Homo sapiens: one gene and its partners. The protein of the gene in region 7 purifies or fractionates together with the protein of the main gene of each other region. This does not show direct contact. Each region holds a gene or a part of one and is shown on either strand. Other genes may lie near its edges.

Evidence for each region.
Region 1: the proteins of HP (region 7) and PRKACB purify together in Homo sapiens (affinity purification with mass spectrometry, with the first as the bait; one large-scale study listed by BioGRID). This does not show direct contact.
Region 2: the proteins of HP (region 7) and FGB purify together in Homo sapiens (affinity purification with mass spectrometry, with the first as the bait; one large-scale study listed by BioGRID). This does not show direct contact.
Region 3: the proteins of HP (region 7) and HPX purify together in Homo sapiens (affinity purification with mass spectrometry, with the first as the bait; one large-scale study listed by BioGRID). This does not show direct contact.
Region 4: the proteins of HP (region 7) and TF purify together in Homo sapiens (affinity purification with mass spectrometry, with the first as the bait; one large-scale study listed by BioGRID). This does not show direct contact.
Region 5: the proteins of HP (region 7) and ANGPTL7 purify together in Homo sapiens (co-immunoprecipitation; one large-scale study listed by IntAct). This does not show direct contact.
Region 6: the proteins of HP (region 7) and CP purify together in Homo sapiens (affinity purification with mass spectrometry, with the first as the bait; one large-scale study listed by BioGRID). This does not show direct contact.

Annotation. Positions count from the first base shown.
Region 1 is NC_000001.11:84,196,271-84,199,770, forward strand, and holds part of PRKACB (cAMP-dependent protein kinase catalytic subunit beta), read left to right. Parts: intron 1-345; coding exon 346-472; intron 473-1,458; coding exon 1,459-1,554; intron 1,555-3,500. UniProt on the Homo sapiens protein: Mediates cAMP-dependent signaling triggered by receptor binding to GPCRs.
Region 2 is NC_000004.12:154,569,511-154,573,010, forward strand, and holds the end of FGB (fibrinogen beta chain isoform 1 preproprotein), read left to right. Parts: intron 1-3; coding exon 4-289; intron 290-908; coding exon 909-1,140; 3' UTR 1,141-3,297; downstream 3,298-3,500. UniProt on the Homo sapiens protein: Cleaved by the protease thrombin to yield monomers which, together with fibrinogen alpha (FGA) and fibrinogen gamma (FGG), polymerize to form an insoluble fibrin matrix. Fibrin has a major function in hemostasis as one of the primary components of blood clots.
Region 3 is NC_000011.10:6,430,988-6,434,487, forward strand, and holds the end of HPX (hemopexin precursor), read right to left. Parts: intron 1,031-3,500; coding exon 900-1,030; intron 817-899; coding exon 654-816; intron 484-653; coding exon 224-483; 3' UTR 62-223; downstream 1-61. UniProt on the Homo sapiens protein: Binds heme and transports it to the liver for breakdown and iron recovery, after which the free hemopexin returns to the circulation.
Region 4 is NC_000003.12:133,791,393-133,794,266, reverse strand, and holds part of TF (serotransferrin isoform 1 precursor), read right to left. Parts: 3' UTR 1-2,874. UniProt on the Homo sapiens protein: Transferrins are iron binding transport proteins which can bind two Fe(3+) ions in association with the binding of an anion, usually bicarbonate.
Region 5 is NC_000001.11:11,187,991-11,192,154, reverse strand, and holds the start of ANGPTL7 (angiopoietin-related protein 7 precursor), read right to left. Parts: upstream 2,801-4,164; 5' UTR 2,576-2,800; coding exon 2,200-2,575; intron 1-2,199. UniProt on the Homo sapiens protein: Has a role in the formation and organization of the extracellular matrix.
Region 6 is NC_000003.12:149,180,330-149,183,829, forward strand, and holds part of CP (ceruloplasmin precursor), read right to left. Parts: intron 3,277-3,500; coding exon 3,137-3,276; intron 1,805-3,136; coding exon 1,676-1,804; intron 1-1,675. UniProt on the Homo sapiens protein: Multifunctional blue, copper-binding (6-7 atoms per molecule) glycoprotein. It has ferroxidase activity oxidizing Fe(2+) to Fe(3+) without releasing radical oxygen species. It is involved in iron transport across the cell membrane.
Region 7 is NC_000016.10:72,053,021-72,057,304, reverse strand, and holds the start of HP (haptoglobin isoform 1 preproprotein), read right to left. Parts: upstream 2,801-4,284; 5' UTR 2,653-2,800; coding exon 2,648-2,652; intron 1,145-2,647; coding exon 1,062-1,144; intron 776-1,061; coding exon 674-775; intron 1-673. UniProt on the Homo sapiens protein: As a result of hemolysis, hemoglobin is found to accumulate in the kidney and is secreted in the urine. Haptoglobin captures, and combines with free plasma hemoglobin to allow hepatic recycling of heme iron and to prevent kidney damage.

The DNA of each region.
Region 1 (3,500 bases), on a different chromosome or scaffold from region 7:
TCCATTTGGCACATTTGCTTTCCAATTATTCTCAAGATCAGACATAATTAGAAAGACATCAATATATTTAAATATGGGCAATAATGATTCACAATGAGCTAACTATTTTAGGTTTATATTTTTCCTCAACATATGCTTCCCCATAAATTTATCAGAGCGTTATTTGAACAAAATATAGAGATTTAATAAATATTTGAAAAGTAACAAGGTTCTTTACATACTTTTTAAAAAAATACTTTTTGTTCCCAAAGTACCTCTACTTCATATTAGTTTTTATGCATAATCTACTAATTAGAATGTATTAACTCATTTTTACAGAAAATCAATGGTTTTATTTCTTTGCAGTGAGCCCCATGCACGGTTCTATGCAGCTCAGATAGTGCTAACATTCGAGTACCTCCATTCACTAGACCTCATCTACAGAGATCTAAAACCTGAAAATCTCTTAATTGACCATCAAGGCTATATCCAGGTATGACTTTAACACATTATGTGTACTGTATATGAGAAAATACTAGGCAAGACATTGTATGTATGTAACCCCAACTTGGAATTTTTTTTGAAGAAGACACTTTCTCCTAATAGTTTAAGTAGAGCTCAGAGTTTTGCTGCTATTACAGAGAAGCAAAAATCCTGTTATGAAAGGAACTTGTTTATATCTCCATTAATCTATAGTTGTGAACTGAGTATAGCCTCTTGCATAAGGAGATATTAATAGCTAAATCTATGAGCAGTTATTAGTGCCAGGCATATTCCACTTGTTTTACATGTATTATTTCTTTAATCCTGATAAACCTATGAAGTGGAAATACCATTGTTATCTTCATTTTAAGATTAACAAAACTAAGACATAGCAAGGTCATTTAGCCAATAAATGGTAGAGTCAGAATTTGAACCTAGGCAGTCTGATCCCAGAGTCCATGCCCTTTACGACTACAATATAACTGCCAAAGAATCCCTGACTACCAATACTGAACTCGTAGCAACGTTTTCTTTCCACTTCTACTACTAATAAAGTGGGAGCATTTCTTTTTACACAATTATTGATAGATTCTCCCATTGACGTTTTTACACTTCTGATGGTGCAACTAATGGCAGAGGACACATTGGGGTAAGGCAGACATTTAGCATTGTTTCATTTTTATTAATGCTATTTATTTTTACCTTTTATTTTCACTTTTTTATTCCTTGGGTCTAGGATCTTATAATAATGACTGAAAAGAGTTTTGTTGTTATTAATTTGTTCCTTTTCTTTGAGTTGAGGAAGGATTTCCAACTTGGATTGTTTAAACTTTCATTCACTAGATATTCATGAATGAATTTCAATTACGTGGACTTAATTTTTTTTCCATTTCTTTCATAGTTTCAATTTGAATTTTAAACTTTCAACGTAGGTGCAATAAATACATTTATTGTGAGGTAATACATTTTCACTAGTATTCTTTTTTTCTTTTATAGGTCACAGACTTTGGGTTTGCCAAAAGAGTTAAAGGCAGAACTTGGACATTATGTGGAACTCCAGAGTATTTGGCTCCAGAAATAATTCTCAGCAAGGTATATTCATAATATCAACACATAAGAAGTAGAAATATGAGACATGCATCCCTATGGACTTTTGTAAAAACAGTTTATTGATCTAATTTTACATTTTTAATTTGATCTAAGTTATGAATTTAAATCTATTTGTGCATGATTACTAAAGAATTATTATTTAGCATCTACCACTAATCCTGTAACCTCTGTCAATTTTAACTCTGGGTCTTAGAGATATAATATGAATAAATATGACCTCTAGATCCATGTTTTGCAACCAAAAACATAGTCTTTTCTTAATTATTCCTAGTAACGGAAGGGTAGAGAAGACTTGCTCTGGATTATACCAAGAGGTAAATCTAGAGATGATATGTACTAGTTGTCCATTCTTTCTTTGTTTCAAATTTACCAGTTAAATAAAAGGAATGTATGAGAAGTGTTTTTAAATTTTAAATAGGACTATTAACAGCAATTGAATAGTTTTAGTCTTATTGAAGGCAGCTCTGCTTTTCTAAATAGTGAAACGTGGTGAGAGAAACTGTACCTATATCCAAAAGAATGGTTAACTTTTCCTCTGCCATCACTTGGTGGAGAAATCTAGAAAGGAGAACCTAACAATAACCAGGCACAAATAGGAGAGAGGAAAAGGAAGGGGATAAGACACATGCTTCACTGGTTCCCAAATGGAATCATTGAAATATGGCTAACTTATAGAAGTGTTAAAATAAAAGATTTCTTTCAACTTTTCTCTCATTATCTTTCATAATTTAAATAATATGTAACTTCTTGATATTTTATAATCTAAATATCATTGTAGTTAACACATTTCTTTAAATACAGTTAACAAATAATGGGACAACAAAATGAGCACTAAAACTTTTACAAATGTGTATATATTGTAAAAGTAATACTCATTATACAAAATTTAGAAAATACAGAAAAACATAAACAAACAACCAAAAAAAAACCTATATGTAATCCCACCAACCTAGACGCAGCCTTTTTAAAAACATTCATATATGTATGTACATATATGTATATATGTGTATATGTGTATATATATACACCACATATATGTGTATATATGTGTATATATATACACATATGTGTGGTGTGTGTGTATATATGTATATGTGTATATATACATATATATTCATATATATGTGTATACGCATATATGTATATATGTATATGTGTATATATACATATATGCGTATATATACACATATATACGCATATGTATGCATATATATATGCGTATATATGCATATATGTATATATATGCGTATATATGCATATATGTATATATATGCATATATATATATATATACACACACATTTTAGCTTTATTTTAGCTTTCATTTTAGGTTCAGGGATACATGTGAAGGTTGGTTACAGACGTAAACTCATGTCATGGGGGTTTGTTATACAGATTATTTCATCACTCAGGAATTAAGCCCAGTACCCATAGTTATCTTTTCTTATCCTCTCCCTCCTCCCTACCTCCACCCTCAAGTAGAATCCAGTATCTGTTTTTTCCTTCTTTGTCTTCATAAATTCTCATCATTTAGCTCCCACTTACAAGTGAAAACATGTGGTATTTGGTTTTCTGTTCTGCATTAGTTTGCTGAGGATGATAGCCTCCAGCTCCATCCATGTTCATGCAAAAGACATGATCTCATTCCTTTTTATAGCTGCATAGTATTCCGTAGTGTATATGTACCACATTTTCTTTGTCTAGTCTACAATTGGTGGACATGTAGGTTGATTCCATGTCTTTGCTTTTGTGAATAGTGCCACAATGAATAAACAAATGCATGTGTCTTTATGATGAAATGATTTATAATCCTCTGGGTGTATACCCAGTAGTGGGATTGCTGGGTCGAATGGTAGTTCTGCTTTTAGCTCTTTGAGGAATCTCCATACTGCTTTCCACAATGGTTGAACTAATTTACACTCCTACCAAC
Region 2 (3,500 bases), on a different chromosome or scaffold from region 7:
TAGGTGAATATTGGCTTGGAAATGATAAAATTAGCCAGCTTACCAGGATGGGACCCACAGAACTTTTGATAGAAATGGAGGACTGGAAAGGAGACAAAGTAAAGGCTCACTATGGAGGATTCACTGTACAGAATGAAGCCAACAAATACCAGATCTCAGTGAACAAATACAGAGGAACAGCCGGTAATGCCCTCATGGATGGAGCATCTCAGCTGATGGGAGAAAACAGGACCATGACCATTCACAACGGCATGTTCTTCAGCACGTATGACAGAGACAATGACGGCTGGTATGTGTGGCACTCTTTGCTCCTGCTTTAAAAATCACACTAATATCATTACTCAGAATCATTAACAATATTTTTAATAGCTACCACTTCCTGGGCACTTACTGTCAGCCACTGTCCTAAGCTCTTTATGCATCACTCGAAAGCATTTCAACTATAAGGTAGACATTCTTATTCTCATTTTACAGATGAGATTTAGAGAGATTACGTGATTTGTCCAATGTCACACAACTACCCAGAGATAAAACTAGAATTTGAGCACAGTTACTTTCTGAATAATGAGCATTTAGATAAATACCTATATCTCTATATTCTAAAGTGTGTGTGAAAACTTTCATTTTCATTTCCAGGGTTCTCTGATACTAAGGGTTGTAAAAGCTATTATTCCAGTATAAAGTAACAAACACAGTCCCTAGATGGATTGGCCACAAAGGCCCAGTTATCTCTCTTTCTTGCTATAGGGCACAGGAGGTCTTTGGTGTATTAGTGTGACTCTATGTATAGCACCCAAAGGAAAGACTACTGTGCACACGAGTGTAGCAGTCTTTTATGGGTAATCTGCAAAACGTAACTTGACCACCGTAGTTCTGTTTCTAATAACGCCAAACACATTTTCTTTCAGGTTAACATCAGATCCCAGAAAACAGTGTTCTAAAGAAGACGGTGGTGGATGGTGGTATAATAGATGTCATGCAGCCAATCCAAACGGCAGATACTACTGGGGTGGACAGTACACCTGGGACATGGCAAAGCATGGCACAGATGATGGTGTAGTATGGATGAATTGGAAGGGGTCATGGTACTCAATGAGGAAGATGAGTATGAAGATCAGGCCCTTCTTCCCACAGCAATAGTCCCCAATACGTAGATTTTTGCTCTTCTGTATGTGACAACATTTTTGTACATTATGTTATTGGAATTTTCTTTCATACATTATATTCCTCTAAAACTCTCAAGCAGACGTGAGTGTGACTTTTTGAAAAAAGTATAGGATAAATTACATTAAAATAGCACATGATTTTCTTTTGTTTTCTTCATTTCTCTTGCTCACCAAGAAGTAACAAAAGTATAGTTTTGACAGAGTTGGTGTTCATAATTTCAGTTCTAGTTGATTGCGAGAATTTTCAAATAAGGAAGAGGGGTCTTTTATCCTTGTCGTAGGAAAACCATGACGGAAAGGAAAAACTGATGTTTAAAAGTCCACTTTTAAAACTATATTTATTTATGTAGGATCTGTCAAAGAAAACTTCCAAAAAGATTTATTAATTAAACCAGACTCTGTTGCAATAAGTTAATGTTTTCTTGTTTTGTAATCCACACATTCAATGAGTTAGGCTTTGCACTTGTAAGGAAGGAGAAGCGTTCACAACCTCAAATAGCTAATAAACCGGTCTTGAATATTTGAAGATTTAAAATCTGACTCTAGGACGGGCACGGTGGCTCACGACTATAATCCCAACACTTTGGGAGGCTGAGGCGGGCGGTCACAAGGTCAGGAGTTCAAGACCAGCCTGACCAATATGGTGAAACCCCATCTCTACTAAAAATACAAAAATTAGCCAGGCGTGGTGGCAGGTGCCTGTAGTCCCAGCTACCTGTGAGGTGGAGATTGCATTGAGCCAAGATCTCAACACTGCACTCCAGCCTGGGCAACAGCGTGAGACTCCACCTCAAAAAAAAAAAAAAAAGAATCTGACTATATACCATGGAAAAGCCACCACTCTGCCACTTAAATAAACATCAGGATCAGAGATTCCAAGAGGACAATCTGCATCAAGTCTTCACCAAGTGTTTTTTAAGCGAAATAATGAAATAGGGAGCAGAATATGCCTGTTGCCCATAGAAACGAGGTCTATTCTTGTCCTCAATTAGGCTTTTTTTTCTTCATAGTTACACCAGAACTAAAGTAAAAGTGGTTTTTCTGTTCTTTCTACTTCTCCCCATGAAATGGGCATATCATCTCAACACTTCACTCCAAGTCGCCACGGGCAACCTTATGACCCTAGGTCCTCCACCCCTAATGTATCATCATTGCCACCCATTTTTATGGTACTTATTGTTCTTAAGCTTATCCTCTTAATCTTTTCATGTAAGCAAAGCTCATTAATTTCTGTCTTGGAAATGCTACTACTCTCTTTAATTACTCACCAAATCCAACTTTAACTTTTGACCTGGTTTCTCTGCCACAAGTTCTGTCCCACTGGAGCCCATACTCACCTACCGCTTTGCCATCACATTTAACAGAAAACTCTTATCAACTTACTTCCTGCTTAACATTAGCTCCTTCCTATCTATATCCAAATTTCTTAAATTCAAATTTTTTAGCTGGAGTAAAAATGGTCCCAGTACCATTTCCTGTTCCCTTCACTATAACCTACATTTTTGTCACATTAAGTTTTTCCCCATTCCAGGACAGGTCAGGCCCTTTAAAAATTTCAACAGCTTTATTGAGATATAATTGATATAATTTAAAAAATCCTGCACATGTGTCATGCTGGAGCCCTATTGATTCCAACAGGGATGGCGCCTTGTCCAAGAAGAGACCCAGAGCCAGTGAATGGGACATAGGGTTTATTTAGGACTTAAATACAGATGTGGTCCAGTGGCAGTGGGCTGGACAGGACCGCTACTATTTGTAAAGAGTATGTAGTTTATATAACATTTCTACTTAGCACTCTCCACTTAGCAACCTCCATTTAACCCAAAATAAAAGGCCTTGGTTCCTTGCACATCCTGAGTTCCAACGGACAGGCAGGGAGTTCAAGTGTCCTTCACAGATAAGAAGTGAATCTCTCTGGGTTGGCCATTCCCGGATTCCTTAGCTTAGACTCTGAACACATATTCTTCTTAGACCATACAGTCATTCTCAGGGTATGCTTGAGTTAATGCTGTCGGATGCATCTGTCATACAAAGTGTTTAACATATACGATTTCATGATTTTGGAAATATGCATACACCCATGATATCACTGGCACAGTCAAGATATTAAATATATCCATCACCTCCAAAAGTTTCCTTGTGTTCATTTATTTTAGTTTTTCATGGTAAGAACATTTAATATGAAATATTATCAACAAATTTTTAAGTGCACAATACTGTATTATTAATTTTAGGCATTATGTTGTACAGTAGATCTCTAGAACATATTCATCTACTAAAAATGAAATTTTATCTCCATTTCCCCCTACCTCCCATCCCCTGGCAACTACCATT
Region 3 (3,500 bases), on a different chromosome or scaffold from region 7:
GGAGAAGTGCTAACTTTTCAACTCAAAGAAAGAAGATTGTTTCACGACCAAGGTCCCTTGATTCAAGTGAAGAAGCAATCTGTCTTTATTATGAGAAACTGGGGAGGTGGGGCCAGGCCAGACTCATGTCAGAAGGCCCCTCAGTGAGAAGCGAAGAAGCAATCTGTCTTTATTATGAGGAACTAGGAGGTGGGGCCAGGCCAGACTCATGTCAGAAGGCCCCTCAGTGAGTGCAGCCCAGGAGACTGGTCACATTCTGGGGTTGCGGAAGGGCCTTGGCTGCATTCAGTTTCTCCACATCACTGTAGCAGTACAAATTGGGACCATGGATGAGGTACAAGCCGGGACCATTGGCGGAACATGAGTTAGGGCCAAGGGACTTTTCCATACACAAGGCTCCGTCTACCTTCTCATGGGGCCAAGGAAGCTCTGTCCACGTGGCTTGGGCTCCTGACTTCAGGTCCAGCCACCACAGCCGCCGTCCTGGGGAGAAGGCACCAAACATAGCATGGCTTCCATGTCATGGGGATCCTGACCTAGGCCTTCTCATGCCCTGGGGATCCTGACCTAGGCCTTCTCATGCCCTGGTGGGGATCTATGCCACAGACAGGTAGCAGAACAAGCTGCCCTCTAAGCACCCAGAAGCCCCTCACCTGCCATGATATGGAGCCGAGAAGACCCAGGGCAGATAAAGGCCGCATCCACAGAGTCCAGGATAATCCCATGAGGGGTCCCGACTTCCTTCTCCAGCCGCTTCGGATAACCGCTTACTAGGGTATAGCCTCCCTTTGTCAGGAAGACATATACCTGGGTGCCCTGGAGGACAAAGGATGGTAATAAATACAGAGTTGGATATGCTTGTCCCAGTCTCTACCTCAAGCCTCTCCCCCAATACACACCTGGACCAGATAGAGTTTTTCTTCCCAGGAAAAGGCAGCATCCACTGCTGAAGGACCCTGGGGCCACTGATGAGCAATGGGCCAGCTATGCCAGCCATCCCGGCTGGTGTCCAGACGCCAGTAGTGGGTCCCTGTGGAATACCATAGGTTGCTCTAGGGCCGCTGGCAGAAGCCCAGGCAGAGAAGAGGCTAGTGATGAATGCAGAAATGAGTCATGAGAGGGAGAGAATGCATCCAGAGGCCAAGATGGAAGAGGCCAGGTGAGAAGGAGAAATAGAGCAAGACTTGGTCAGCAATGTTGGGCACTGTGCCCTGGCTGAAACTGGAATCAGCAGGTGCCTGAAAGAAAGGCAAGTGTGGAAAACAGTGGCTAAGTTTCCAGGTAAGGCCAACATCATGGGGTTGGCGGGCACTCCCTAAGGATTTCAGGTGTCCATGTACAGAGATGCGGTTATAGATAATGAAATACAGTGTCCAGAACTTAAAAAGGAAGCACCACTTCTACTGAATGTTCTCACTCTGGCTGTGTTCTCCAGTCTCTCCCTATGAGGTGGTGGAAGAGTGAGGGAGTAGCTGGGCTAGCACCCCGTTTTTCTTCTCCTCTTTTCACAACAACTTATTAAGGAATTATCTAGGCTCCCATTTGTCTTTTTTCCTCAATCCTCTTCAATTACACTTCTGTTTCCCTCAACCATTGAAATTGTTCTTATCCAGGTTGCTAGTATTCTCCAATTTGCGAAATCTCATGGTCAATTCTCTGTTCTCATCTGACCCTACCTCTCAGGAGCACTGGACTGCTCACTACTTCCTTCTCCTTTAAATGTCTTTTTTTGGAACTTGGCTTCTGTGACACCTGACTCTCCCAGTATTCCTCTTATCTTTTTTGACTACTCTTTTCTTCAACCTGATATCTAAATATTGGAATCCCCTACTTTGGGCCTCTTCTCTTCTCTCTCTACCTTCACTTCCTTGGTAATCTCACCTAGTCCAGGGGCTTTAAATGCCATCTATATGCTGATGACTTCCAATCTGTTCTCGTCAGCTCTGACTGACCTCTCCTTTGAGGTTTAGGCTCCAAATCAGCTGCCTACCTGACATGCTTATGGGGTGCCAATAGGCACCCAAAACCTAATATGCCCAAACTGATTTCTGCCCCCCACCAACACACACACTCCCTAGTCTTTCCCAATTTTAGAAAACAAAACCACCAGCCACTCAGTTGCTGAGTCCACGAAAGCTGAGTCATTCTTGAAGCCTCTTTTCCCTTCCCTACTCTGACTGATATCATTCATTCATTCATTTATTTAGAGACGGAGTTTCACTCTTGTTCCCCAGGCTGGAGTGCAATGGTGCAATCTCGGCTCACTGCAACATTCACCTCCCAGGTTCAAGCGATTCTCCTGCCTCAGCCTCCCAAGTAGGCTGAGATTACAGGCATGTGCCACCATTCCCAGCTAATTTTGTATTTTTAGTAGAGACGAGGTTTCACCATGTTGGTCAAGCTGGTCTCGAACTCCTGACCTCAGGTGATCCACTCGCCTTGGCCTCCCAAAGTGCTAGGATTACAGGCGTAAGCCACCACACCCGGCCTATCTTAGCTATTAGTTAATGCTGTCAGCTCTACCTCCAAAATATATCATGGTGATTCCTCACCACCTCTGCTGCTATCATCCTAGTCCAAGCGGTCATCACCTCTAATTTGGACAACTGCACGGATTGCTAGCTGGATTCCTTGCTTACATGCTTGTACTTTTATAACTTATGTTCTGCAAAAAGTCAGAGTGATCTTTTATAAAAAATGAGTTAGAATATATCACAGCCCTGCTCAAGACTTTCTGATGACTCCCTTTTATGGTTGAAAACCCTTACCAGGTCTAGGTAACCTGGCCACTGCCGTCCCTGCCCTTTCAAGTCACCCACCTGCTCTTTCTCTGTGTTCCAGCCTCACCAGGCTTCCTTCTTGATTCCTTGAAGTATGTGCTGCTCACCCTCCCTAAAATGCTTTTCCTCCAGCACATCGTGTGGTTAATTCCTTCTCATCACTGAAGTCTCAGCTCAAAAATCATTTCTTCAGAAGACAGCCCTCATTCTCCTCACCTCTATCCCACTATCCTGTCTTATTTTCTTTACAACCCTTAATATTACCTAAAATTATTCTCTTTCTTCCTTTCTCTTTCTTATTGTCCTCTCTCACTTTAGCAGAGCCTGTCAGGGCAGGCATCTTGTCTGCCATGTTGACTACTGTATCTCAGTGCCTAGGACAATGCCCACTTCTTATCAGATGCTCAACAAATATTTGTTGAGTAAATACCTAGTGTTCTTGCTGCTACCACAAGTTCTCTTATTAGCCGTGTACTGAGTATACAGCGGTGACTGACATATCCACCTCCCCTGGGAGGTTTCCCACTGAAATTACCCTGCTCAGGAACCATATTTATTTTATTTTATTTATTTGTTTTTTGAGACAGGGTCTCAATCTGTCACCCAGGCTGGATTGCAGAGGCACAGTCACGGTTCACTGCAATCTCTGCCTCCCACACTCGAGCAATCCTCCCACCTCAGCCTCCTGAACAGCTGGGACTACTGGTGCATGCCACCACA
Region 4 (2,874 bases), on a different chromosome or scaffold from region 7:
TCAATATATTCAATTTGGATCATTTTATCTTTTCCGTGACGAGTCATGTAATGCAGAAATTTTACTAACAAAAGCTTTAACGACTTAGGAAGGACAAGGTGGCCATCCTGGTTCTCCATGAGTTCATGCTTAATTAACATTAGACTCATATCCTCTTGAATACCAGTTGTTTCCCCAAATTAGGTGCATAACACTGATAACTGATGGGTTATCATAGGTAATTTGATTTAAATGATGGAGTTTATTCAAATTTTATATCTAAACAGTTTCAGTATCAGCTGATTTAGCATGAAAATCTGGCAAAGTATTTTCTTGGTATTTAATTAATTTTTGTTCTACTTGGGTTAGCAGTTTTAGAACTCAGTCAGTCTTTTCATTAAAGTTCCAGGAATTCTTACCCAGTTCAAATGATATAATTCTAAACTTATTAGAAACCTGTATTCAAGAGTGCTTTTTAGGGTCCTTTCCAATCTTTCATGAATCTCCTAAAAGACACCATATTCTAGGACTTTGCATGCTTGTGAAGTTTTCAGAAACTGCATCAGCATTAAGCAATTAACTGTGGAAATGACTTTAAATAGTTATAGTTAAAAACACAATTGACAAGGAAATTTGGTTATTTCTGTGGTCTACAATAACATAATAATCATAATTATGATTGATAGCATATACTCAGACATATTGGAATTTTAGAAATCTCATACAATTTTGGAACATATATTAATATTATTCACTAAAATATAACCTGAAGAAGATTAAATTTTTTTCTTTTTGACAATGCTTCCCATGTAATTAAACATGTCAAATAATTCTGTTTACCTCTCTTTTGGATGCTTCAGGGGCCCTCTGCAGCATCTCAAAGTTAGAGGTTAGAAAAGACAATTTTGAAGCTGAAATTTGATTTTGGGAAGCCTATTAAATATGTTAAAGATTTAAAACACTTGACATTATGAAATGGAATTCCAGGTTACCATAGTCATTCATTTAGCAAAATGATGACTCAAAAATGTTTTAAAAGGCAAAAACCTTTCCATGTTGATAGATGGAAGACTTACTTTACAAACAATCTGTCTCTTGTCTTTCCCTTCCTTTTTTTTGGTGGGGGGGTAGTTTATTCAAAAGGCAAACAAAGATCTTTCATTATCTTTTAATACTGCATGAAAATCTTGTTCAAGAGAGAAAGCCAAATTTCACCCTTGCATTAGTGTGCTATTAATGTCAACCCCAATTTTTAAGAAAACCTTGTAGACATATCTTTCCAATCTTAATCCGTTTGACCATAAGGTGAGATTCTCATAAACCTTTTATAATCCTTTACAAATGTTTGTTAAAGAGCAGATCGGTGCTTTAAGAAAACCCTGTTTGTGCTTTTATTTTGATGTTCAATTTATGGAAAAACCAGAAAATACCCCTTTAAATTTAGTCAATATGTTCACACACATAATTTTTTACAATATTAATTTTTATAAATCTTCCACAACTCATTCAAACTTTTAGCTTTATCCTAACTTAAAACAATCCTTTAACCCTTTAGACAGAAAAAAAAATCTACATTCCCATGCCTTGTTATAATCTTTCACTGAAAATGCATTCACTTTTCTTACGTAACTTGCATGTAAAACTGTTGCTTCAGTAGTCTCACTTACATGTTACAATGTTAACTCTTAGCGAGTTTTACTTTTGGTGAAAACTTTGGTAAGTTAAGGATTTTAATTATATATTAGTTGTGGAGTCTAGGACCCAGAGAGAAGTACACTTAAGGTCTGACTCCAGCATCTGACTCCACGTGTCTCAGGCCTTACCGAGCTGTAAAGCAGGCAAGTTGTAGAGTTAAGAGTCATAGTGGCATTTTATGAAGCATTTAGGAGGTCTAATCACCGTTAAATTGTATATTTCTTGCATAAATTCTCTTTTGTAAATTATTTCATGACTTACACAGACCATCTACGACATGCTTTGACTTTCTAACTTGTCCTAAACATCCCTCTTTTTTAACAACCGCTTATTTTACTTTAGGACACGAATTTACGATATAAGATCCTTTCTTATATAAAATCTCCTTTCTTTATAACCTTCTTTGCATAGCTAGGGGACATGGCTAATTCTATTTGTCCCCAGGCCTTATCTAGAATCTAATGCTCCAAAATAAATTGAGCAATTTTTAAAAGTCAAAGAAGCGGTTTATGACCTTAAAGCATTTTGCAAATCTAATATCTGACCTGCATAATTTAGACTAAATATTTACATTTTGAAGATATTTTTATTTTACCAATAATCTTTAAAACTGTCTTTATTTCCCAAAGATTACTTAAGTTACATGAAGTAAATAGAAGGCATTACATTTTTTACTTTTCTGATAAAATATTTGATTTAAGCTCTTATTATTATTAAGCTAATTAATTAATGCTCTTTTATAGTACACACACAACACATATAAATACACAGACAGAAGATAAAGGACTCATTCCCTAAGCCAGGAATTGAACCCTAAACCCAGGCTGCCACTGTGAAAAGAGAAAGCATGGCCACATGGTTACAAGGTCAAGCTCCCAAAGACATGACTGACCAGTCTGCTGGTGTGTCTTGAACAGCAGGTCTATGGGGTCCTAAGCACACATTTTATTCTAAGGTACCCCTCTTTATGACAAAACAATACAGAAAGACACAAAGCACACCAGATTCACTACAGCTTAAGATCGGCCTCAGAATTCTTTTTTTATATTAATCAAAACTTTACAGAGGAGATAAACAGTGACTTTTACTATTCATTTATGCAGTTTGCACAGAGAGACAGAGACCAGAGTCTGGCTGGTAAGAAATTCTTACCCTTTTGCCAGTATGCCAGGTTTCTGGGTTCTGTCTCCCAAAGCAGCC
Region 5 (4,164 bases), on a different chromosome or scaffold from region 7:
CATCAGTGTCTGCATTTGGGAGAGGTGGATATGGGGAGATCCAGAGGGGGTGTATTTTGGCTTTACTAGCGGTGGAGCAGAGGGGTAGGGAAGCCCTTCACCTGGATAGCATTAGTGGGACGTTCCAACAGGTGGTTTCAGGTTAACTCTGAAATAAATTATTCTGCTATAGCTGGGCCATGAATTCTAGAAATGTTACAGTGTATGAGGGCCACGTAACAGATACTCCTGTCAGATAGATTCAGACTTCTTAGACAGCCGCCACTATAACAAATCAGTCGTGAATATCTCATAGAGTCTGGTTTTGTTGATGTTTCCTGGTTGGTTGTTTTTGTTGTTGTTCAGAGATGGTGGCTACTGCCACCTGAGACCATAATTAAGGGAGATAGATTTTATTATCACATATTTTCCCCTTCCATCCAGCTAGCACCTCAAAACACTCAGAAGAACCTTTGAGGCCTTCCTCCCAGAAGTTTTGTTAAAACAATGAAATGAGAGCATCAGACTGGCCAGTTTTTTTACTCTAGGGCCATGGAGCTGCTACTTTATGCAGGATTTAAGCTCTGTATTCTAAATATCAAAGAGCATAGTGGAAGAGACAGCCTTTTCTGATAGGATTCAGAGACTGCGGCCCTTACTATCCAAGAGAAGCTTCCTGCCTGCTATGTCTCGGGGTGCTTTTCTTGGTGACCACTGCACTGGGACCTTAGAGAGGAGCACCAAGATGGCAGATGGGAGTTGTCTGAGGCACATAGGTTCTCTTGCAGAGCACCTTGGGAAAGGGAGGTAGAGTACGTGTGCCTTCGCCATCACTATTCTTCATTTCGTCTTAGTGGTGAAAGCACCAACTTACTGCTTCCTCTAAGGGACTACCTACTTATAGAATATAAGGGTAACTGAGCACTTGGTCATAGAGAAGAAAAATAAGGAATGATGTCCTGGGCAAGAAGAGCAAGAGACCTGGTGGGAGAGCTGCACTTGACCCCAAGAACCTCCTTGCAGGATGGTGAGAAAGCCTCCTGTTTGGATGAGCAGGAAGTGGCACGGTCAGATTCCTCTGTCTGGCCTGGTCTTCCGCATGTCTGGTTTCATCTCACAGACCAAATCAGGACTCACTTGTCTGGAAAATGGCCTGAGAATACCTTTCTAATCCCAAACTGAGGGCCCGGAAGTCCATGCTTAGAAAGTGATTGATACATGTTGGTTCAGGTAACAGAATTTTCAAGCTTGGTTTCATGTTAAAACTTTTTCTTAATTTGAGCTGAGGTTAACCATTGACTTAGTCAGTAGAAGCTGATCATGTCTTTGTTCTTCATGTAGTTTATAATGGGACCAATGGTTTTTATATCAGCAAGAAATGACATGTCTATAGGATATGCTCCTTACAACTAATATTTTCCTGATAATTTCAGAAAACCAAATTTTTATCTCTAAACCGTAAATTCATGTTGGCCCACCTGAGCTGAGCTAACCAGAAATAAAAGTTATTTTGCAAAAGAAAGATTAAATTTATCTTATTTTTGGCCTATTAAGTCTATATTTCAGCATTGCATTTAAAAAATCCTGTATTCGGAGAAATTCATTTAAGACCATGGAAAAAAATAGACGTATCACAATTGAGGAACCTTAAGGAGCCGCATCCTTCCTGAACACAAAGGGACTCTTCACATGGTTATGTGTCTCTACACTTAACTCTGAGCCAATGAGAAGAGTTACGTTTACAGAGAGAGGACACAAAATTCCATTAATGCTCATTCCTGGTAAATCTTAGGAACACCAGAGAACTGTTTCTGGCAAAACTTTGCTTCCAGAGGAACAGCTGTTACAGTTTGGTGCTTCCTTGGAATTTCTTGAGATATAGCCTGTCAGCTCTTGGTGAGGAAGTAGCAGAGCTACACCAATCAGGAAGACTTGAACCCTGCTTCTAAGACTTGCTGGGTGACTTTGGGCAAACCATGTAGTATCTCAGCACTCCAAGATGGTAGGCTGAAACACTGTGTGGATAAAAGAGACCCGTGAAGGTGTTAGGTAAACTTACATAGCATTAGAAGTCAAAGGAAATACTGCATAAGCCTTTACTAAAGGGAAAGTGTACCCACAAAAGAGGCCCCAGTAGTGGTTCTGATGACCAGGATATGTAGAAGCAGTGCTGTAGATGGGGAGGCACTCCACGCTCCCTCAGGGGACTGGTCTCCTTACCTGCGGAGGTCTGAGTGACCGTCTGTGCTGCCTGCAGCTGCATGATGTCAATTTGGTTGTTCATCTCGGAGTACTTGCTCTCAGCATCTGTGAGCCGCGACTCCATGCGCTTGCTGTTGCTCTCCAGCTCCATCACCTGCATGACCACGCTGACCCAGTCCCTCTCCTGCTTCTTGTTCAGTTCACTCAGCAGGCTGCTAAGGTTGGCAACTTGGGCCTTGAGCTCCTTCACCTCCTCACAGCAGTTGGCCGCTTTGAGCTGTGGCTGTGCTGGTGTCTTGTGCTTAGAGAGCTTCTGCAGCCACGCTGGGTGGCTGACAAAGGCCACGATGAAAATGCAGAGCCAGGTCACAGCTGAGAGAGGCTTTTTCAGCATCTTTTGTGGGTTTGGGTGAGGAAGGCTCTTCCTTCAGGGGAGTCTGGAGATGCCCAGCTGAGGTCTGCAAAGCTGCAGCAGGCTGACTGAACCTTACGCTTTCACTCTGAGGGCCTCGCCACTTTGTTGTTTTCTCTCTTTCCTTGCTCTTTGCTAGCCTTTCTCAAAGCTTGAGTCTCTGACAGGGGAGCTGAATGGGTAGCCTATAGCTTTCCTTCCAAGCCCGAATGCTCCACAAGTCAGCATCTTAAATATTGTTTGCTGCCTGTACCTCCACCCCTACCATGGCTGCACCAGGCTTTAGCCCCTCCCAGCTCATCTGGGAGGGTCAGGTGCCTGTTGGGTGAAGTCAGCGGCAACTTAGGCCAGAGGAGGGGAGGAGGGAGATGGGGCGAGTCTTTCTTTCCTTGCCTGTACAGTCTCTGGGCTAAGACAAGAGGACTGTGAATTTGTGTGTTTCCAGTTTCGCCTATTAGATTATGCCCCTGCCAGCCACTGGCTCAACTCTATCAGCAAGCAGGACAGGGTCAGAAGAATTTCCAAATTCCGTTCAAAAGGTTATATAACCATGGGGTGAGCGTAAGGTAGGCGAAAGAGACGCTACTCACCCAGGGAGGCCTGTTAATGTAATCCATGCTGTTTATATGAGGATCTGGTATATTTTGACATCCTGCTGAATATGCTTTTATCTAGGCTGATTATTCCCATCTCTGATCATTATTTAGTATTTTATAAAATCCTTACTCAACCTGGATCTAACACTATCTCACATTTGAAATCTTCCAACTTAGAAAAGTTCTAGAAATAGAAGAATAGAGTAAATCTCTTAGGAAGCCAAAAAAAGACTTTGTAGCCACAGGGTTTGGACAGTTGTCTTTTTACATGCTTTCTCCTTCAACAAAGAGAGGGCCAGTATTAGCATATAACACTTGATATTTTGCAAGGAGGTGTCAGAAGATTACAACAGAGATGAAAACTCAGCAGTGCCAAGCATGTCTGGGATTGGTCACCCATGCTTCTGTCAGTTTCTAGGCAGGACAGAGAACAGGCCCATCCTTAGCCCGTGGTTCAAAACTTGGAAAATATATTAAAATATAGAGAAAAGAATCCCTGTCACCTAATAAATCCATATCTAGAGTCTCATTTCCCTCTTTCTTTGCTGGTATGGTTTGCAATTTGAAATTATTCCTCCTCTATTTGTATATGACTTTGTATCTAAAAAACATGAATATTGTAATTTTTCATGTACTATATATGAAGGACAATGCTCTTTTGAAAAGAAATGTGAAAAACATGGAGTTTCAGCAAACATCCTTAAAATAAGCTTTTCACTAAGAATCTATACAAAGGTTCCTCTGTCCTTAAAACAGTAACTCTGTCTTTGGAACATACGATTGCTGTTTCCATGTTATGGAGCCACTCAGGCAGTTACTTGTACTGTTGTAGTCAGCGTGGGTCCTTCCCACATAAGCCTGATGCCTGACAGCTCTCCTCCCATGCCATAATCCCCCAGAGCTCTTTTCCAGTCAGGGCTTCTAGCTCCTCAGAAAGTAATTTCTGTTCAGGCAGCTGGAGTTACTGAACAATTT
Region 6 (3,500 bases), on a different chromosome or scaffold from region 7:
TTGAAGACGACCAGTTGCTTCACCCTCCTGCTTTGCCAAGGCTCTTACCCTTTTCCCATGTGCTCTAGGCTTTTCTCCAGTCTGATCTGCGTTTCCATTCACCTCAGGGCTTCCTGTGCAACTGCTCACAGGCCTCAACTTTTGGCCATGCCCACTCACCAATCCCAGCCACACTCATTTTCCATCCCATTTATTTAGACCACACCATTACATATTCATGCTATCACACTAACCTGCCAGAGTCCAACAGACATTCACTAGAGAATCAAGCAAGACAACAGAGATGGTCTCAAGTGATGTGGTAGACGTCTTACTTTTTCTTCAAGCCTCAGTCTGAGCTGTTCCTATGTCCTCACCCTTTTTCTAAGCAGAAAATTTCACTAGAATATAAAGTATTGATTCACCACCTGCACATATTACTGTCTGGCCATCTCTGCTTTTACTTATTCTCATAAGCTGCAAAATAACATTTTCTTCTCTTTTCCACACCCCTTTACAACCTGCTCTTCCACCAGTGGTCAGTGCCCAAAACCTTGGGGTCATGCTTGACTCCTCTCTTCCCTAACACTCCCTAGTGCCCATTTTCCAGCAGGTCCTTTTAGTACCACCTTTAAAATGGAACCAGAATATGATAACATCTCACCACTTCAGCCGCTTCCACCATATTCCAAATCTCGATGATGATGATGATGATGATGATTTTACCCAGATTATTGCAGTGGTCCTTAACTGACCCCAGATTCTGTCCTTGCCCCCTTAGGGTCACTTAACCACACATCACCAACAGCCCCTTAAAAGGTGTCCATCAGAACATCAGTCTTAAATCTCGAGTCTGAGGTCCTCCCTACTCCATCTGGCCCCTGCTCTCCCTGGATCTCATCTCTAGCATTCTGTCCCTTGTGTGCTTTTCTTTAGCCTCTGGCTGCCTTGCTGCTGCTCACACACACCAGGCATTGCTCCTGTCTTCGGGGCCTAGAATCAATTCGTGCACAATTACCTGAATTTCATTACTTCTCAAACTTTAGGTGTTTTCAGCAATGCCACCTCCTCAAGGAAGCCCTCCTGACCTCTCTACCTAAAATAGCACCCTTGCTACACCCTGCTAAGTTATTGAGAAATAGTATTTTCCTGGAAGCCAACTTTACAACTAATAGAAGAAAAATATGGTTCTTATTAAAGAAAATGCTCACCTATGTATATAATCTGTTCAAGATTTTACTCTATGTTTATTAAAGAAACATTTGATGATCTCCTAATATATGCCAGATACTGTACTAGATAGGGGGAATTTAGAGTTCCAAGTGGCAGCCTCTGGCCCTTAGAACCACATGTGCTAGAGACAGGCATGGGAACATCCAGCCACATATGGTGTGGTAGATGCCATTTGAGCTGTGTTCTAGCTGAGCGAGGAGACAGCATCTCTCTGATTCACGCTTGAGGATTCATAGATGTCTACTACCTTCAGGTTTTTCTCTTAAGCTCTCCTGTGGACTTTTTTTTTTAGTACAAGCATGTGCATGTACTTGCATACACACAGACACCTCCTTGCATCCCCTCTTCACAACTACCTCCCTTTTCACTTTCTTGGTCCAGACTCTCTATGATGAGAGTAATCTGTGGAAAGGCTGTACAGCCTGTTAAAATGCACCACCCCCACCCCCGCCCCCGTGAGTACCTGGTAATGTTGGAGTAACTGTAGAACTCTCTGTTTGTACCCCATGGGCATGTATTGAGTAGGGCCTTGTGGCCATGTTTTTAAAGATAATTTTGACTTTGTCTCCAACATCTGCATGAAGTTGTGGACCTGGCAAAAGTGAAGAGGAAGAGTGTCCAATCAGAAGGTCTAACTTAGTAATAAAAGCAAAGATCAGCAAAGATAACTTGTTTCTCTCCCCCATGGGTTTGTGGTATAATACTCTTGGATTTATACTGCGTCCCAGGGAATTTGGAATCAATACACTGGAAATAAAAATGGAGACCATTTGTTTATCTCTTAAGAGTTCTAGGGGAGGTTTGGCCTGAAAGTCCTTTGCAGAGTACCGGTCTAATCATGGTGGGTTGGATATCTGGCCAGGAGTCATTTATACCCCTCTCATTTCTACCCTTTATCCAATCTTAGCTTGTCTCTTGTCTGGTAGGATTTTTGTGCTCCAGCAACAATGCCATTTTGCCTTGGTGTCTTAGTCTAGGGGTTGAGGATAACCAAGCCTCAGGGGAATGCTGACAGTATGGGAACACAGTGGGGTGGGGATGGGAGTGGGGGTCCCTGCAATTGATAGTTTTAAAGAAATGTCTCAAGACCAGTGTTGCTCGAGTTCTAGACATTCTGTCTTAAAGTGAGTCCTAAAAAATTGAAGGCAGCTTTGCCCCTGCTTTGTGCGTGGTATCATTTTTTCTTTTATTTCCTGTTGTAATTAATTTCCTTTTGTATATTTCTTCTTGTAATTAATCATTTATATTTTAATTTTAAAAGTAAATAGCTGTAATTTGAGAGGAATGGGTAGGATAATGGGGATAAATTGGTTAAGAATTTTATTAGGGCCAGGTGTAGTGCCTCACGCCTGTAATCCCAGCACTTTGGAAGGCTGAGGTGGGCGGATCACTTGAGGCCAGGAGTTTGAGACCAGCCTGGCCAACATGGTGAAACCTCATCTCTACTAAAAATACAAAAATTAGCCAGGCGTGGTGGCCCATCCCTGTAGTCCCAGCTACTTGGGAGGCTAAGGTGGGAGACTCACTTGAGCACAGGAGCGGCAGGTTGCAGTGAGCTGAAATCACACCACTACACACCATCCTGGGCGACAGAGTGAGACTCTGTCAAAAAACAGAATTTCATTAGAAAATAGTTTCTGGGAACTTCACTAAAACTACAGGCATCAATTTGATAAAATATATATAATTTCATCAGTATACGGGACAATACATAGTTTCCAAGAGAAATAAGTAATATTTTACTATGTCATATTATTTAATAAACATCAGTCTTATTTCATTAGATAACTAATTTTTAAATTTTTATTTGAACAACTTTGATATATGAACCAAGAAAATGAAACCCATAGACATGAATTGACGGTTACTGCAGGTAGCATCACATCATTAACCCACACCTGATAAACTGGAGATATTAACATACCTAGAATTCCCAGATGTTCTTCTTCAGCTTTTCTCTCCACTGGAACACGGAATGTGCTATCAGTATACTGCCGATACACAACTTTCTTGTACTTTGAGCCTATGTAAAACTCTCCCTTATCTAAAAATGCATTTGAAACACTTAAAAAAAAAAACAACTAAGGTTAGTATTTGTCTTAATGAAAATGTAACTTAAGTTTTAAACTTTAAATTTTGAATAAAAATATAGTTTTTATTAGAGTAATTATAGTAGTTTTAAATCATCACTCTTCTATCCAAGTAGGAATGCATAATAAGACTTTAAAAGTCTGTGTGGTAGAAAGCATACCTAGCCATCTGAGTGCAGCCATCTGAGTCCTGGCCTC
Region 7 (4,284 bases):
AAAGAAGAAGAAGAAAGGAGGCAGACAGGAAGGGAGAAAGGAGAGAGAATATGAGAAGGAGGAAGGGAAAGAGTGCTGTGCTGGAAGCCAAGTGCCTGGACACCAGTTAAGCCCAGCAGAACACACTGTGGTCATGGCGGTCACAGCCAAGCAGTACAGGGAGGGCTCAGGGTTCAAATCCTGACTCTGCCTCTTACAGGCTGCCTGAATTTGGGCAAGATACTCAACCTGTCTGTGCCTCAGTTTCCTTATCAGCAAAGTGAAAACAATAAACTCTGTTCAGAGGGATACTGTGAGGACTAAGTGAGCAAATAAGTATAAAGCCCTTAGAGCAGTGCCAGGACAGCAAGACTCACTAGGTGAGGGTGACATCATCATCAGCATTCCTTCTTTTCCCACATCTGCTGGAGATGTAAATGTGACTCTGAGATTTACATGAGGTAGGCTGCATGGCATCGCCTCCCCTTAACAAAACAGAAAACTTGAGGCTGACAAAAGTTAGTCTGCCCAAAGGGCCATGGCTACTGGCGACAAAACGCTTATTAGAATCTAAATCTCCTGGCTCCAAGGAGAGCAACGAACTTTCTGGCGAATCACCTCAGCACCACCCATCATGGAAATGTCAGAGAAGGGGGTTGTATGTAGGGCATGGAGACAGTTGTCCACATCTTACCATCTCCTTCTGTGCGCAGTTTGTAGTAGTTCTTACACTGGTAGCGAACCGAGTGCTCCACATAGCCATGTGCAATCTCGGGGGGCTTCGGGCAGCCGTCATCTGCAAAGAGAGAGAAGCCAGAGAGTTTGCTATTTGGAAATTGTTCCCAGTGAACCGTGAAAAGTCAGATGAGCGGGAGCTGCTCTGCACATCAATCTCCTTCCACCCCGAATAGAAGCCAATGGAAAGGCAAGCTCCCCTCATTTCTGGCAGGAACCCCAATGTTCTTTATGGTCCTGAAAGCCCAGAGGTCGAGATAAGAAGGGGGAATTGGGTGTTCTCAGAGAGAGTGCAGACCCGAGAGGGTCAGAGTGGGATGCACACTCCTACCCAACCAAAGACTGACCTGCGATATCCGTGACATCATTGCCTGAGTCCACTGCAAAAAGCTGTCCCCAGAGCAGGAGGGCAATGACAGCTCCCAGGGCACTGCAGAGAGAAGACAAGGAGGAGTGGAAAGCTAGTCTCCCTGCTTCACAGCACATGCATGCATCCACACACACATGCATGTACACACACACACACACACATGCATACACACACACTCCTCCCACTTAGCAGCCAGAAAAGAAAGTCGATATATGGAAGTGCTAGGACCAAGAAATTGCCCCCACACCTGCCCATACACACTTTAGCAGCTTCTGAGCATACCAAGCTTCCAGCAAGCCCTGTCCTGCTGGGAATTCTGCAGAAGCTTCAGAGAGGGATAGAAAGGCACATAGGTGGAGGGGTGGGCTCAGTTTCTGGCTGCATTCAGGAAAGTACATTGGCAATAATACAGGAGCCCTCCAGGAAAGAGAAACCTCCCTCAGACACCGCAAAGATAGTGGTAATAAAATGTAGATAACTCAGAGATGGGAACTTTGGGCTTACTGTGCTATTCCTCTACTTCTTGATATTTTCCGTAATAAAAGGTTCCTTAAATATATAATTTTAAACACGTGGGTATTTCTAGTATTTTATAATAATTCACCTTTAGGAAATGGTATCTGAAACCCCAAAATGCCAGAAGGTTACCTGGAAGAGAACTGGTGTCCAAAAGCAGGACGGTGGCCATGGGCATTGACCCACAGGTGCCGTCTGCCAGTTCACCATCTCACTAACAAATGCCAACCATTCGGGCACTACTTGCTTCTATTAAAATAGTTTCTAGGCCAGACACGGTGGCTCATGCCTGTAATCCCAGCACTTTGGGAGGCCAAGGCAGGCAGATCACGAGGTCAAGAGATCGAGGTCATCCTGGCCAACATGGTGAAAGCCCGTCTCTACTAAAAATACAAAAATTAGGTGGGCATAGTGGCGCACGCCTGTAGTCCCAGCTACCTGGGAGGCTGAGGCAGGAGAATCACTTGAACCTGGGAGGTGGAGGTTGCAGTGAGCCGAGATCATGCCACTGCACTGCAGCCTGGTGACAAAGCGAGACTCCATCTCAAAAAAAAAAAAAGTTTCTAGTCTTATTATTTCAACATTTCAAAAAGTGTTTATTTTTATAAGATCTAAGTGCCTTAATTAGATGTATCCCAGGTATTAGTGTGTATCCCAGGTACTAGTCAATTAATTGTGTCATTCAAATGTGTTACTATTAGTCTTCCTTATTGTACATTTTTAAAGAGGAAAATATCTGCTAATAAATATACTCAGGATGCCAGGAAGCCTACCACGGGAGCTGATGACATACCCTATAAAGTCAAAAATGTAACCTGAAGGAAAAAGACACTCCTGAGAGTAAATCTTATCTCCTGGGAAAGACAGCAGCACTGTCTTCTATGGATGCAGAAAAGGAGAAGATTTAACACACTAAGCCCTTTGGTTCACTATAATTTAGCCCATTTGCCCGTTTCTTTGTTCTATTTCTGCATCTCTACCGATGTATGCAAAAAAGACTGAAATAAAGAACCAGAGGAAAGGCAGGAGGGAAAGCTGTGGACCCACCTCATCTTGGTTGGTCTTGCCTCTGGAAGAGCAGTGCTGTGGGGCATCTGCTGGTCTTTTTATGCTGCCACTAGCTCACTTCTCCCCCTTCTCCATTTCGTAATTCCTGTGTCTACAAACTTTGGCCCTGGTAAGGTCACTATCTTTTCCAGTAACAAAACCACAAACAATACCCCTGTTAAGAGTTGAGCTCTTGCTTCACACTTGATTTTCTTGTGATGTTCTATTACAAATCCCAAGAAACCTGGCAACTCTATGACCCACAAACCTGCCAAAGTATTTCCTGAAATCAGCAACTGGGCAGGACAGGGCGGCGGCAGGAACCATCAATCTGTCTCTTTATCTTGGAGGATTTTCACACTGCAGAAAGGCTCATTTTGAGTTTTTTCAAACCCATTGTAGACATTTCTGCAGCCTAGCTTAGGTGGGGCTCTAAAGAAAGTACTTCCTTTTCACAGTAATTTTCTCCACCTTGTGTGTGGCCATCTCCCTATTGCTTAAAAGCTCTCCAGCCTGAAATCAGTAAATGTGTTTATTGTGTCTTCTCTGATTGCTCTTTGCAAGAAATCACACAACTAGTTAAAGCTATAGTGTAGACTGACACAGACTATACTCAATGGCAGTGGTTCTCATGGTTTTATAGTCTGGTGATTAGCCTAAATAGGCAGATGAGAAAAATCAATATGTCTCAGTCAAATGTCTGCACCTGTGTGTATCCCAGGTACTAGTCAACTGAAACTTAGTAGCAACTCAATACAAGGTTGATTTATTCATTAAAAAGGGTTAGTTGTTCTTAAATTAGAGTGTACAAAAGAATTACTTTTGGATAATCATGGTGACACTGATATAATAGCAAAGTAACTAGAAACAAGACAAATGCCCATCAACAGGAGGAAGGGTCAATACTGCATTGTATGTGGATATAATGGAATATTATACAGCATAAAATGAATAAACTCTGCAAGAACATGGATCATCTTATAAACATAATTTTTGAAAGAAAACCGCAAGTTTCAGAAGATTACCTTCAGTATGATGGCAGTCTTCTAGAGATCAAAACCAAGTAAAACTTGGCAATGGATTCTTAGATAATGACACCAAAATCACCAGCAATCAAAGAAAAATTAGATAAATTGGGCTTCATCGGAATGAACATTTGTGTATCAAAAGACAGTATTAATAAAATGAAGACAGGCCAGGCGTGGTGGCTCACGCCTGTAATCCCAGCACTTCGGGAGGCTGAGGTGGGCGGATCATGAGGTCAGGAGTTTGAGACCAGCCTGACCAATGTGGTGAAATTCCATCTCTACTAAAAATACAAAAATTAGCCAGGCATGGTGGCGCATGCTTTAATCCCAGCTACTCGGAGGCTGAGGCAGGAGAATTGCTTGAACCTGGGAGGCAGAGGTTGCAGTGAGCCTAGATCGCACCACTGCACTCCAGCCTGGGTGACAGAACAAGACTCTGTCTCAAAAAAAAAAGTGAAGACAGTCTACAGAATGGGAGAAAATATTTGCAAATTCTATATCTGATAAAGGGTTGTTATCCAGAGCATATCCTAACTACAACAACAAAAAGACAAACAATTAAAGCATGGGCAAAGGATTTAAATAGACATTTCTCCAAAAAATATACAT